2 separate regions of the Homo sapiens genome follow, and region 1 is linked to region 2. The links come from fine-mapping of genetic effects on gene expression. A gene starts in region 2. The other region holds a variant in brackets. All regions are shown on one strand. Distances are between the middles of the regions. Region 1 overlaps CRY2 (cryptochrome circadian regulator 2). Region 2 holds the start of CRY2 (cryptochrome circadian regulator 2).

Region 1 (2,786 bases), 20 kb after region 2:
GATGGGAGTGGACGCAGGGAGGCCAGTCAGGAGGCTGCCACAGTTGTCCAGTCTAGATATGACCTTAGCCTGAACCAGGTTGGTGGCAGCAGGGAATGGAAAGAAAAGGACAGATTTGGGAAATATTTAGGCAGTAGAATTGACAGGACTTGGTGAGGGGACAAAGGTGATGGCTAGGATTGTGCCTTGGGCAGCTAGGTAGCTAGCAGTGTATTATCTGAGGTAGGGAGGCCAATGGAAGGGTGGGTTAAAAGAAAAGGGCACATCTCCCTTGAGCTGCCTGAGAGGCAGCCAAGTAGAGGTTTCTAGCAGGCAGCTGGGTGGAGCAATCTGGGCTAGAGCTATGGATGTGGTGGTTGTCTGCAAAGGGGTGGAACTGGGAGCCATGGGCCTGGATGAGCTTGCTGAGGCACACAGTTGAGTAGAGAACCTAGAGCTGAGCCCTGGGTACCCACATTTAAGGGAGAGGCAGAGGAGGTGGAGCTGATGAAAGACCAAGAGCGCCAGGCAGCTGGGAGATACCAGGAGATGTGGAGTCACAGAGGCCAAGGAATCAAGAGGATAAGACAGCACAGTTGGCAGGTATAGCGCTGCTGAGAGATCCCAAAATACAAGGTCAGAAAGTGCCTGCAGGACTCAGTGGCACAGAAGTCACAGGAGACTCTTGTGGGAACCAGCCTTGTGGTCACCTGAGGTTTGGAGTTAGAGACCAGCCTGGCCAACATGGCGAAACCCCATGTCTACTAAAAATACAAAAATTAGCCAGGTGTGGTGGCAGGTGCCTATAATCCCAGCTACTCAGGAGGCTGAAGAGAGTCAAGGTTGTGAAACAGTATCATGGAGAGGAGGAGAGGATGTTGGGAGTTAAGAAAGTGGAAATAGGCCGGGCACAGTGGCTCACACCTATAATCCCAGCACTTTGGGAGGCCAAGGTGGGCGATCAGGAGAATCCCTTGAACCCGGGAGGTGGAGGTTGCGGTGAGCCGAGATCACGCCACTGCACTCCAGCCTGGGTGACAAGAGCAAAACTCTGTCTCAAAAAAGAAAAAAAAATAAATAAAAAAAGTCGTGAGAGACTGCATGGAACAGCAAGTCAGGAAAGTAAAGTCCTATGCCAGCAACCAGTGATGATAAAAACATGACCAGTAATGTTATATGACACATGGCCCCAGAAATGAATGATTCCATTGGTCCCCAGGAATGGATTGGAAGTTTCCTCCTTCCCCAGCTGCTGTTGAACAATAATGCGAAGTCCCTGGTGTCTGTGATACAACCTCAGGGCCGCTAGTGACTAGAGAAGGGACTGAGATATTCTTTTCTGTAACATAGAAGCCTTGTTTCCTGCTGTATAATTAGAGAGTTCATTCAGTGCTTTCAGAATTCTTTCATATCTCATTTTAATCCACAGAAGATTGGAAATTTTGTTCTTATTTAATAGATACGTAGCTGAGGGAAGTAACAACGTGTTCACAGTCACCCCACAAATTAAAGAGCAAGTCAGAGAATGACATAGACTCGTTGTTTGGTCTGATGGTGGTTCCGTCTCAAAATCGGCTGGACAAGCACAGTGTTCCATGGCTCCATGGCTGGCTGTTCTGTGACCGTAGGCAGATTCCTTAACCACCCAATGCCTCCATTTTTTCCTCTGTTAC[A/T]TCCAAGCCTTTCCTTTTGCCACCTTCTCTTTCTGCTGTAGGCCTGGGTTGCCAACTATGAGAGACCCCGAATGAACGCCAACTCCCTCCTGGCCAGCCCCACAGGCCTCAGCCCCTACCTGCGCTTTGGTTGTCTCTCCTGCCGCCTCTTCTACTACCGCCTGTGGGACCTGTATAAAAAGGTAAGGGGGACATACCTGCCCACATTGCACCTAAGGCCTGCAGCCAGGCCTTTTGGGCTTGTCAGTCACCCTAAAAAAGGCACTGGTGGGTGGGGGTTGGGCTATGGCCCCTGGAAGGGCCTAAGTGTGTGCAGATAGTCCGGAGGAGGAGAGAAGACTCAATATCCAAGAGGGCAGAGCCAAGCACAGAGTGAACTGCCCACCAGAATGAAGCCCAGACCATCATGTAGAGCAGAAGGACAGGCAGAAAAGCAGGCCTCAGGTGTGACCCTAGAGGTGGCATATCCTCTGGCAGCTGGTGGACAGGGGCGAGGTCCCCAGGGTGAGAGGCATGGAGAGGGTGAGGCTGGAGCCAGTCTGAAGTGGAAGAGCATAGCTGCCCGCTCTGGAGCTGTGTCCACAGCATTCAAAAGGGGAGTCCAGGAACAGCAGTTGCCCATCAGTGATGGAGGGAGTGGTGTGGAGGGGCTGCACACAGGGCTGTGCTATACAGACAAGAAGCAAATAAGCCTGTGTTAACTGTCCCCAGAAGGAGAGAGGGCAACACAGTCAGCATTCAGAGGGATCACCTCATCTTGTGCCTATGTTTTTTGTTTCTGTTGTTTATTTAAGAGACAAAGTCTAGCTGTGTTACCCAGGCTAGAGTGTAGTGTGGCCTGATCACAGCTCACTGAAACCTCAGACTCCTGGGCTCAAGCAATCCCTCTGCCTCAGCCTCTCAAGTAGAGCTAATTTTTTACATTCTTTGTAGAGATAGGGTCTTGCTATGTTGCCCAGGCTGGTCTCGAACTCCTGGGCACAAGCAATTGTCCTGCCTTGGCCTCCCACAGTGCTGGGATTACAGCCGTGAGCCACCATGCCTAGCCGTTGTGTCTACATTTGTTTTTTTGTTTGTTTTTGAGACAGGATCTCATTCTGTCACCCAGGCTGGAGTACAGTGGTATGATCACAG
Region 2 (2,786 bases):
TTCCACCTGATAACCCCAAAGCTGCAGCTTGACTAAGCCGTCTTAGCCCAAGAGGGTTCCACCTGGCGTCCCAGAAGAATGGGGACAGTGTCCTCCACATCTCTGAACCCTACCCGGAATCCAGTACAGTGCTTTGCACACACTGGATCTACTAAACAGACTAAAAGAAAATAAATTCATCTGATGGCATAATTACTATCTCAATTCAAGTCCCCCACATTCCCAGTCCTTACTCCCAAATCCTCTACTGCTGCATATTAGGGCACTCCTTCCCCGTCCTTAGACTCTGCCACTTGGAATTACCAAGGATCTTCGCACAAAGAGAAGTATAGCTTCGTGGATAAAAGCAGAAATTTCGAAATCAGAATAATCTGGGTGAAATCCTCTTAGCAGCTTTATGATATTGAATAAGTCACTCAACCTGCGGCACCCTCCGTTTTCTTCATCTGTGAAACGAAAACAACAGCAGCTTTTTCACTGGGGTTCGCTAAATGAATGTAACTGGGCTGAGTTGAGAATAGTAAATGAGACCGTCTACGTAAGGAGATGATCATGTCTCTTGCCATATAAAGTGCACTTAATAAATGGCAGCTGTAGTAGAATGATGTAGATGGTGATGGTGACGATGTTGGTGATAATAGGAAGGTCAGCTGTCAGTCTTGCAAGTCACTGGCTGTAGTCACAGCAACCCCTACCAGCCCAGGCAGCTTCTTCTAGAAGCAGGCCCTGAACAGGACGTGGGTAAGAGATCCGCTGTCCCTTGAGACTTGGCCTACTCCCGGCACTCCGCGGACAGCCCCAGCCTGCGGACAGCCCCAGCCTGCGTCACTTGTCCGCATGCCAGCTCCACCCGGGCGGACCCACACATGGTAGGAACGTGAGGGGGCGGGCCTGTTCCGGCGCCTCTGGGCCAATCGCCAGGTGGAAGGCACTCAGCCAATGGCAGAGGGGCTCTGGGGCCCTGTGGGCGGGGACTAAGGGTGGAGTTGCGGCGTCATAGGTCACTGGGCGGGCTATGGGCGGGGTCCACGTCGCCTACCGGGGCGGAGCGGGGGTGGCTGGAGCAGTCTGGACAGTCATGGCGGCGACTGTGGCGACGGCGGCAGCTGTGGCCCCGGCGCCAGCGCCCGGCACGGACAGCGCCTCTTCGGTGCACTGGTTCCGCAAAGGGCTGCGACTCCACGACAACCCGGCGTTGCTGGCGGCCGTGCGCGGGGCGCGCTGCGTGCGCTGCGTTTACATTCTCGACCCGTGGTTCGCGGCCTCCTCCTCAGTCGGGATCAACCGATGGAGGTGAGGGGACCCGGGGCTGGGTGGCGGGGACGCAGCCAGGACCCTGACCCTGGGGTGACCGGCGAACAGCACGATCCCCCCAACCCCGCCACGGCTGGAAGGCCAGAGGGGAGAAGCCGAGACCGGGGAAGTAATTCGTCATGGTCCTAACGCGCCGGTGGGCCAGGGTTCAGCCTCTGACAAAGCGCGTTCGCACTGTTACCCCTTTGAGCCTCACAACTGCCTGTGGAACGGAGATCATGATCCCCGTTGTACAGATGAGACCCTTGAGCCCTGGAGACCCAAAGTCGACCTGCCCAAGGACTTGTAGCCAGTGAGTGGCAGAACAGGGGCTCCTGGTCTAGGGCTCTTACGGTCTACTCAGGGAGGGGCGGAAGGGAGATAACGTAGTGTGAGGGCGGGACGGGTTTTTGCTCGCATTCTTCAAGAGCCCGTTGCTGGGCTCGGGGAGATCACTCCGAAGCCTCTGGCTCGTTTGAATCCGCCCTACCACCCATCCTGGCTACCCTGCACCCAGACCGTCCTGCCTCTAGGGGTGTCAAGTGACCCTGGCTTAGCATTAAATAAGGTCTTCTCCCCTATATTATAAATAAAGAAGCCAAAGGCGTCTTCAGGTGGAGTCGCTTTATGTTCAAAGCTCCAGAGAATCCAGGGGATTCTCCAAAATGTTTTAAGCCCTGCTCTGGAGCTTTGACCTCGATAGAAAAATTTAAAAGAATCCAAAGTGTCACCCCGTCATCCTCTTGTCATGATTTTAGAGGACAGTAGAGCCATTAGAGATGAGACTTTTATGAACTGTTGTGGTAAGGTTAGGGAGCAGGAAAGCCATGATATCAAGGGCCCCTCTGATGACCCCCCAGGAGATGGAGTCGACATGATCATGGAAAAAGATGAACAGGTCGTTAGTGTATTTTCACTGTAAACAGTATTCAAACTAAAGAGTTTTGAGACATAATGTACCCATCGCTCTTCAGAACACCTAGTGGCAGTCGCTCGGTTTGTTTGCATTGTTCTGGGGAATGTTTGCTTGTGGCCTTGTTGCATCGATGGACAGGGTTATTTCCAGGATACCGTGGCTCTCGGCACACCATTCTTTTCTCTCCAAGGTGTGTGCCCTGCTAAGAGAGTGAGTGCTGCTAGCAGTGGGCCTGTTCAGTGTCCCCTCCTGCCCAGAAGGAACAACTAAGGAGTCCTGTGGAGAGCCTGCCCACAGTTTTCAGGCTGCCTTATTGCTCTGTCTCTGCTCCAGTTTTCTACAGATAGGAGGTTGGGTTTGACAAGCATCATCAAATGACCATCCCTAGTGTGCACATTAAGCCAAGCCTCAGACTTTGCCCTGCACCAGTCGGAGCCAGGCAAATGGAATCCGACTACCTTCTTGTTACATTGTCACAGAGTTTCTTCTTTTATTGGGTTTTGGGGGACATTGCATAGTACTGCCTACTCTTTTTTGATAGGGAAGATTAAAAATCAACAATAAAATTCCTGTTGAT

The links. PIP is the estimated chance that this variant, and not a neighbour inherited with it, causes the effect. A credible set is the group of variants that fine-mapping cannot tell apart.
Region 1: its variant is the best candidate, but not a certain one, in a credible set for the expression of CRY2 in whole blood (TOPMed, PIP 0.57).

Annotation. Positions count from the first base shown.
Region 1 is chr11:45,865,919-45,868,704 of GRCh38, forward strand. CRY2 (cryptochrome circadian regulator 2) reads left to right here. Exons shown (of 12, transcript NM_021117.5): 6 at 1,694-1,834. Among named protein-coding and RNA genes, the nearest start is that of MAPK8IP1, 18 kb to the right of the region's middle. RefSeq lists an enhancer at 1-83. The variant A/T (reference allele first, on the strand shown) is at 1,653.
Region 2 is chr11:45,846,413-45,849,198 of GRCh38, forward strand. CRY2 (cryptochrome circadian regulator 2) reads left to right here and starts at 1,063. Exons shown (of 12, transcript NM_021117.5): 1 at 1,063-1,293. The coding sequence starts at 1,079. RefSeq lists enhancers at 514-623, 674-723, 1,084-1,323, 1,254-1,775 and a silencer at 1,724-1,833.